2 separate regions of the Homo sapiens genome follow, and region 2 is linked to region 1. The links come from fine-mapping of genetic effects on gene expression. A gene starts in region 1. The other region holds a variant in brackets. All regions are shown on one strand. Distances are between the middles of the regions. Region 1 holds the start of INTS4 (integrator complex subunit 4). Region 2 overlaps INTS4 (integrator complex subunit 4).

The links. PIP is the estimated chance that this variant, and not a neighbour inherited with it, causes the effect. A credible set is the group of variants that fine-mapping cannot tell apart.
Region 2: its variant is the best candidate, but not a certain one, in a credible set for the expression of INTS4 in monocytes (TOPMed, PIP 0.59).

The regions. Positions count from the first base shown.
Region 1 is chr11:77,992,077-77,996,473 of GRCh38, forward strand. INTS4 (integrator complex subunit 4) reads right to left here and starts at 2,592. Exons shown (of 23, transcript NM_033547.4): 1 at 2,514-2,592. The coding sequence starts at 2,567. RefSeq lists an enhancer at 2,507-2,706 and a silencer at 2,907-2,976.
Region 2 is chr11:77,954,727-77,959,123 of GRCh38, forward strand. It overlaps INTS4 (integrator complex subunit 4), which reads right to left. Exons shown (of 23, transcript NM_033547.4): 7 at 4,020-4,108; 8 at 1,216-1,336. Among named protein-coding and RNA genes, the nearest start is that of INTS4, 38 kb to the right of the region's middle. The variant C/G (reference allele first, on the strand shown) is at 1,668.

The sequences.
Region 1 (4,397 bases):
GTCTCCCAAAGTCCATTCTTTATTAGAAAACAAATATCAGACATGGCATGGTGGCTCATGCCTGTAATCCCAGCACTTTGAGAGGCTTAGGCAGGCGGATCACTTGAGGCCAGGAGTTCAAGACCAGCCTGGCCAACATGGCAAAACCCCATCTCTACTAAAAACACAAAAATTAGCTGGGGGTGGTGGTGTATGCCTGCAGTCCCAGCTATGCAGGAGGCTGAGGATTGCGTGAACCCAGGAGGCAGAAGTTGCAGTGAGCTAGGATTGCGCAACTGCACACCAGTTTGGGCGAAAAGAGCGAAACTCCATCTCAAAACAGAAGAAAAGGAAACAAATATCCGATGGGCGTAGTGGCTTACACCTGAAATCCTAGCACTTTGGGAGGCTGAGGCAGGAGGATCCCTTGAGCCCAGGAGTTCGAGACCAGCCTGGGCAACATGGTGAAATCCTGTCTCTGTTAAAAAATAATAATAAAATAAAATAAATTTCCTTACCACCTAATGGTGCGTTTTTATGTACTGAGCAATCACCTCCTTACAAATTCACATTTCTATAGAAAAGAGAGTAGAATTATTCTAGACAAGAACACAGTATGACATGATAAAAAGAATAAGGACTTTGGAGTCAGAGGAATTTGTATTCAATTACAACTTACTAGCTGGGGAAGGCCTTCTTCTATAGGAGGGCATACCAATACTTTATTATCACAGAGCTAGTCGATAAATCTGTTATTAAACATAACTTTATTATACGTATATGTAAGTGCTAGGCACATATCAGTTCTCCCTCCTCATCTTTTCAGCGGAGAAAAAAGAACAGAAGCACTAAGATCTCATTTAATCACTTTATGTTAACAACTGATGAAAAATTAAGTGAAGAAATTAGCTCTTCCCTTAAAATTCTTAGCCATTTCTATCCTAGTCCTCTCAAACTCAGTTTTCAGTCTTATCGAAGCTGTAGTTAGGTCAAAAGCTAGGAATTTTTTCCCTAAGTATTATATAAGGGAGAGGACAAGCAATATCAACTGTCATTCAACCACCAATAACACTTTAGTGAGCCAGGCCCTATTGTCCATCTCCAGGACACGGAGATGAGCCAGGCATTAGCTCTGCCATCAAGGACCTCCGACTGGTGGGAAGATAGGTACACCGGTAATGACAGCAGCACTGAACAAAAAGTACAAATAGATTAGTACCACAGAATGCTACAGAAACAGGTGAAGAAGAGACTAAGCTCTCGCTGAGGTTTCATTTGGGTCTTGAAGCACAAATGTTAAGTCCACTGGGTGGAGAACAAAAAGAAAGGGAAGAATGGCATGTATTCTGTGAGAAGAGACAACCAGTGCAAGAGTTTTGAGATATGCAAACACAAGAACACATGGCATATCTGGTCATGTGAGGATGGGTGGAAGAGGGCTGAGCAGTCTTGGGAAATGGGAACAACAGAATGTTGGGAAGAGAGGAAATCACATTGTGCAACAGTGCTAATGTTCTTAATGCCACTGAACTTTATACTTAAAATTGTTAAAATTGTAAATTTTATATTATGTATTGACATATTTTGTATTTGTATTAACATATTTTAATGCTGGATGAATGAATCCATGTAATGTTTAAGGATCAGTATCCTGCTGGATGCTCTAAGCCTTGCCACTCTACAAGTCTAAGGATCTAAGAATGCAACCAATGCACTGGTGTAAATTTGGGGGCATGTCAGGAATGCAGAATCTTGCCTCACCTCCTCTGCTTGACTTATCAAATAGAATCGACATTTGAACAACGTCCCCAGGTAATTTGTATACACATTAATATCTGAGAAATAGGACATCAGGATGATTTAGGATCAACCCTAGCAACATCTACGTGGAGACACATGGAGCATCACTGACTCCCGACAGGGACTCTGCCCACCTGTCACAACTTCATGGTGAGGAAGGTACTGCCCTCCTTCCTAGGTGAGCTGTTCTACCAATAGAGAGCTCTTCCCCTATGAAGTCTGTGACCCCCGCCTGCTTAGACTGCGCCTGAAGGAATTCTATAGACCCTTCTTTCAGCCCCTTAGAACCTTGTGTATATTCCAACTGGTCCCTGGGAGGTTTTTTTTTGGAACGGGGGTGCGGGGAGGCTAGAAGGGGCTCTGCTGCTAACTGGCTGTATCCTCGTACCCCTCCGGAAGGCTCAATGTCCACATCTGGAAAACGAGGATGCTAATGTAACGCGATGGAGCAAAGTTGTGTGAGAGAATAAAATGAAATAACGGATAAGACAGTTTCGTAAATTAAAAAACACTGTTTCTCCTAATAATTTTTTTAAAATCCTGTCAGACTTCACATATTAATGACAACAGCGGCTGCAAACTAACACGCCCACTAACTTGCAATATCAGAGATTATCAACAAGTCAGCACTTAACACGGGCGTATGGAGCCTCTTCTGTTCCGGCAAAGTGCCTGGGATTTGGATAATCTACCCTGGTCCGGATCGGTTCTGGATCTTTCCCGCCAGAGCTTACCTGAACCACTTTCGTGAATTCCTCATAAACCCGCTTCTTAAGGTGCGCCGCCATGCCTACCCGCGGGCCCTCTCAGCTTCCGTACACTAGGAGGGAGGCGGGGGTGGACGGATCCGGAAAACTTGCGTAGGCGCGGGGGGTGGGTGGATGACTTGCCGAGATCCCACAAGGCAGTGGGATTTGGGGAAAGAGCGACCGCTTCCTGTTGCTCGACTGCCTCGCCACTGTACGGACTGATTTGGCGGCCTACGCCGGAAGAACGGAAATAAGAGCTTCGCTTGTGGGAGGCGGGGCCTCTGGCGGGAGGAGCTGAGACTGAAAGGGTGGGCAACCCAATGGGAGCTTTGGGAGGCTGGTTGGTGGCCTCGGAGTGGCTAAGAGACTAGCGCGGCGCGGCGCGAAGGGAGGGAGGGAGGAAGTACAGGTTAAAGGGCAGAGGCGGGGTGCTCCAGAGCTAGAGGCAAAACCCGGAGCTCTGTAAGGGGTTTACGACTCGTGAAAAAACTCAGAGGCTCGGCTGACTTTCCCATCATCCTTTGCTGTACACGATGCTGTTTGTAGGTTTCCTGAGCACTGCCTTTGTTCAAGCTGTGCGCCACCTCTCTTGTTTTGGGGTGCCTTTCCATACTTCCTTATTCCAGTTTTGCAAAAGCTGCCATCCTTTAAGGCATCAATCCCTGCTCTGATAGCTATAGTACAGTAGAAGACTTCTGAGACCAAGGATAAAGCAACAAAGCTACAGACTACAGCTCTGGTTCTTGAGCAAATGGCTCAACTACAAATGCATTTATAATAACTAACCTGACAAAGATGTGACAATGGAGTGAAATAATGCAGGAACATTTTACGGACTGTAAGGTGTAGTGCACATGTTAGTGTCAGTAAATCCAAGGTCAAGTTTTACAACCTACATGAAACTAGCTGTTCATTATTTTGGTCTTTCAAAAGAATGTGGGCCAGGCGCGGTGGCTCATGCCTGTAATCCCAATACTTTGGCAGGCCGAGGCGGATGGATCACTTGAGGTCAGGAGTTCGAGACCAGCCTGGCCAACATGGGGAAACCCCGTCTCTACTAAAAATACAAAAATTAGTCGGGGCATGGTGGCACACGCCTGTAATCCCAGTTTCTTGGGAGGTTGAGGCAGAAGAATCACTTGAACATGGGAAGCGGAGGTTGCAGTGAGCCGAGATCGCGCCACTGCACTCCAGCCTGGGCGACTGAGCGAGACTCCGTTATCAAAAAAAAAAAAAAAGAATTAATGTGGGATAGTTTAAAAAAAAAAAAGCAGGAGGCTGAGGTGGATACAGAGGACCCAAAAATAAACAAAAGATAGTATTTATCCTCAAGGTCCTACAATCTGAGAAGACAGACACCCAAACTGATGGTGACAGTGCAACTGAAATGTGCTGGGTAACGGGAATGAATGTGGTTCAAACAGACCTAATTTCTTCAGAGTGCCTCAGGGAAGGCTTTCCTAAAATTAGAGGAAACTGGGAGTGGTGGCTCACGCCTATAATCCCAGCACTTTGAGAGGCCGAGGCGGGCAGATCACCTAGTTCAGAAGTTTTGAGACCAGCCTGGGCAACATGGCGAAATCTACTTTAAAAATACAAAATTTAGCTGGGCATGATGGTGGCCCACGCCTGAAGTCCCAGCTACTCTGGAGGCTGAGGCGGGAAAATCGCTTGGGCCTGGGATGTGGAGGTTGCAGTGAGCCGAGATCCAGCCACTGCACTCCAGCCTGGGCAACGGAGTGAGACCCTGTCTCCAAAAAAAAAAAAAAAAAAAAAAAAGGCTGGGCGCGGTGGCTCACCCCTATAATCCCAACACTTTGGGAGGCCGAGGCAGGCGGATCACCTGAGGTCGGGAGTTCGAGACCAGCC
Region 2 (4,397 bases), 37 kb before region 1:
TAATGCAGCTGCTGATCTGACAGCAGGCAGAGCTCAGGCAGTAATACTTGCTCATCTACCACTCACCTCCTGTTGTGTGGCCTGGTTCCTAACAAGCCATGGACCAGGACTGGTCCACAGCCTGGGGGTTTGAGCCTCCTGAACTAGGACATAACAAGTGCTTAATAAATGGGAAAAACTTTTTTTTTATTGTTTTCCTTTTTCTCTAGGCTCCGGCTATCTTAATTCCTAGTAGGGTTAATAGAATTATGTTTTAAGATTCTTTCTAGTTCTAAAAGGCTATTTCTCTACAGGAGAGTGAACTATTTCTTTCTATATTAAGAAATTCTGGGGCTGGGAGTAGTGGCTTAAACCTGTAATCCCAACAATTTGGGAGGCCAAGGCAGAAGGATCACTTGAGCCTAGGAATTCAAGACCAGCCTGGGCACAAAGCAAGACCCCATGTCTACAAAAAATACAAATTAGCTAGGCAGGGTGGCACATGCCTGTAGTCCCAGCTACTCAGGAGGCTGAGGTGGAAGGATTGCTTGAGCCCGGCAGGTCAAGGCTGCAGTGAGCCGTGACTGCACTATTGCACTCCTGCCTGAGCAACAGAGGAAGACCCTGTCTCAAGAAAAGAAAAAGGAAAATAAATTCTGGGGTTTTAAATTCAGGTCACACTGCCCCATCTGTAGTTTCTCAAAATGTCTGTAAAAACTTAATGAGAAATGTGCTCATTTAAAAAAAGGATTATTGGCTGGGTGTAGTGGCTCACATCTATAATCCCAGCCTTTTTTTTTTTTTTTTGAGATGAGAGTCTCCCCCTTGTCGCCAGGCTGGAGTGCAGCAGCGTGATCTTGGCTCACTGCAACTTCTGCCTCCCAGGTTCAAGCGATTCTCCTGCCTCAGCCTCCCGAGTAGCTGGGATTACAGGCGTGCGCCACCATGCCCAGCTAATTTTTGTATTTTTAGTAGAGACGGGATTTCACCATGTTGGCCAGGATGGTCTCAATCTCCTGACCTCGTGATCCGCCTGCCTTGGCCTCCCAAAGTGCTGGAATTACAGGTGTGAGTCACCGCACCCAGCCTATAATCCCAGTCTTTTGGGAGGCTGAGGCAGGAGGACTGCTTGAGGCCAAGAGTTTGAGACCAACCTGGGCCACACAGTCCTCATTTCTACAGAAAAGAAAATAAATATATACATGCATACATACATACATAAAAAGTATAACTTACCAACAGTTTTGCTGCCTGAACACGAACCACCCAAGAGCCATCACTGACCATGTGACAAATTTTGCCAAACGCATCATCAACTAAGCGTATTTCTTCATTAGAAGAAGGAATTGGGACAATGCTAAATTAAAAGAAAAGAAATGAAATCACTTAGAACAAAACATGAACCTAAGTCTGCAGGCTCAGGCCAGGCACAGTGGCTCACATCTATAATCCCAACACTTTGGGAGGCCCAGGCAGGTAGATTGCTTGAGCCCAAGAGTTCAAGACCAACCTGAGCAATATGGCAAAACCTCATCTCTACAAAAAAAATACAAAAATTAGCTAGGCGTGGTGGCATGCGCTGATAGTCCCAGCTACTTGGGAGGCTGAAGTGGGAAGATTACTTTAGCTCTGGAGGTGAAGGTTGCAGTGAGCTGAGATCACACCACGGCACTCCAGCCTGGATGACA[C/G]AGCAAGACCCTGTCTTGAAAAATAAATACAGTCTGGGCGCAATGGCTCACGCCTGTAATGCCAGCACTTTGGGAGGCTGAGGCAGGTGGATAACTTGAGGTCAAGAGTTCGAGACCAGCCTGGCCAACATGGCGAAACCTCCTCTCTACTAAAAATATAAAAATTAGCCAGGCATGGTGACACATGTCTGCAATTCCAGCTACTCAGGAGGCTGAGGCAGGAGAATCGCTTGAACCTGGAATGTGGAGGTTGCAGTGATCCAAGATAGTGCCACTACACTCCAGCCTGGGCAACAGAGCGAGACTCCATCTCAAAAAATAATAATAATAATAATAATAATAATAATAATAATAATAATAATAATAAACAAATAAATACATAAGTAAGTAAGGCTGCAGGCTCAATAAACTGAGAACAGTCAATGAAGACTGACACACACAAAAATGATAATTGAATAGTTCAAATCCTAGAATGATTAAATACAGTTTGGAATAAACAAATCACTCTGGGAGTACAAACCAACTCTTTCAGTTGCATTGCAAATTATGCTTTTTTTTGAGACAGGGTCTCACTTCTGTCGCCCAGGCTGGAGTGCAGTGGCGTGAGCACTGCTCACCACAGTGTCAACTTCCTGGGCTCAGGTGATCCTCCCAGTTCACCCTCCTGAGTAGCCGGGACTACAAAAGCATGCCACCACACCCAGCTAATTTTTTATATTTTTAGTAGAGATGGTTCACCATGTTGCCCAGGCTGATCTCAAACTCCTGAGATCAAGCAATCCACCCGCCTCAGCCTCCCAAAGTGCTAGGATTACAGGGCTGAGTCACTGCAACCAGGTGCAAATTTTCAATGTATTGAATAAAAGTGTGTAACCCACCAAAGGTTCAGCCAGGCGTGTAATCCCAGCACACTGAGATACTGAGGCGGGCAGATTACCTGAAGCCAGGGGTTCAAGACCAGCCTACCCAACATGGCAAAACCTCATCTCTACTAAAAGTACAAAAAATGAGCTGGGTGTGGTGGTGCGCGACTGTAATTCCAGCTACTTGGGAGGCTCAGGCATGAGAATTGCTTCAACCCAGGAGTTGGAGGTTGTAGTAAGCCGAGATCACATCACTGCACTGCAGCCTGGGCCACAGAGCAAGACCCTGCCTTAAAAAAAAAAGTACGTAACCCACCAAAGGTTCAAAGATTTATGAAATTATCAAAAACTAGCTTCCACCGAATATTTCATATCCTTAAGTTTATTATCTTCTGTAACTGAACTTCTTTTTTTTTTTTTTTTTTTTTGAGAGAAAGTGTCTTGCTCTGTGACCCAGGCTGGAGTGCAGTGGTGTGATCTCAGCTCACCACAATCTCCACTTCCCAGGTTCAAGCGATTCTCCTGCCTCAGCCTCCCTAGTAGCTGGGATTACAGGCGTGTGCCACCATGTCCGGCTAATTTTTGTATTTTTAGTAGAGACGAGGTTTCACCATGTTGACCAAGCTGGTCTTGAACTCCTGACCTGAGGTGATCCGCCCACCTCGGCCTCCGAAAGTGCTGGGATTACAGGCACCACCGTGTCCAGACTGAACTTCTATAAATACAGTAAATCTCAGAATAAATCAATATAAAACTTACTTATCAATCCAGTCCTAAAAGAAGACACAATTTCCAGTTAGCCCTTTTCTTTGTATGTGTCTAAGTCCTAAAACACTACAAATGGAGCCTACTCCTACAGGTTTATTAATTCATTCTGGTTTTCAAATTCTGGCAGTTTAATGAACAGGAAAAAACACCCCTTTTTCCTATACAAGGAAAAATAAAATATTCTATAAATATTTATAAATAAAAGATAAATAAACATTTATAAATATAATATTCTATCTTACAAAATATAATAAATAATATTGCCTACCTCCTCAAAGAATCACTGTGGTTAATTTAATTGCTGTGAAAATATTTTTAACCAGGAAAACTACATAAGAGATCATTATTCTCAAACTCATCTGGTATCTTTATCTGGCATTTGGCACAAGCCAAACTAAAATGGGTCCCAAACAATTTTAAAGATTTTTTTGTAAAGTACTGAAAACCATTTAAGAAAGATATTCCAATTTCTTCACTTATGGATGAGAAGGTTAGGATAAAAGAAGTGAAGTATCTTTCCAAAGTGTACAGAAAGTTCCTATCAGAGATGAAAAATGAGGACCAGGCAATCTGATTTTCAGGGCCTGTGCTTTTCCCTTATTCCCCATTGCCTTCCAAAAATGTAACCAACATTTCTTTTCTAGAAGTGGGCTTTTTGCATGGTGAGAGGAGAGGAAAACGGCTTCACAATCAACAAAAGCCAGCTTACACCCACACTGACCTTTCAGGATAGAGCTGACTGACGACCCAGATAAGCTGGACTGCAGCACTGCGCACTTGTTCATAGTCATCAGAGAGTAATTTACAGGCCTGCAAAGAAGAATTCCAAAAGTCTATTAGTTCTGTGTCCTCTCAGGCAATGTTTAAACTATTTTCAAAGTGAAGATAGGGTGGTTGGATAAGGATGCCCAGTAAAACACTTGTGTGTGGTTTTAACTTCTGGAATCTTTGCTTAAAAATGAATCTTGACCTCTGTCAGCTGCTCTGGCTGTATTCTGACTATGCACCCTACCCCATGTCTGAAAGGAGAATCACAGACTGACAGCATAAAAACATCTAGAACAGATCAAACCCAGCAAAGCATGCTGGGAGCAAACAG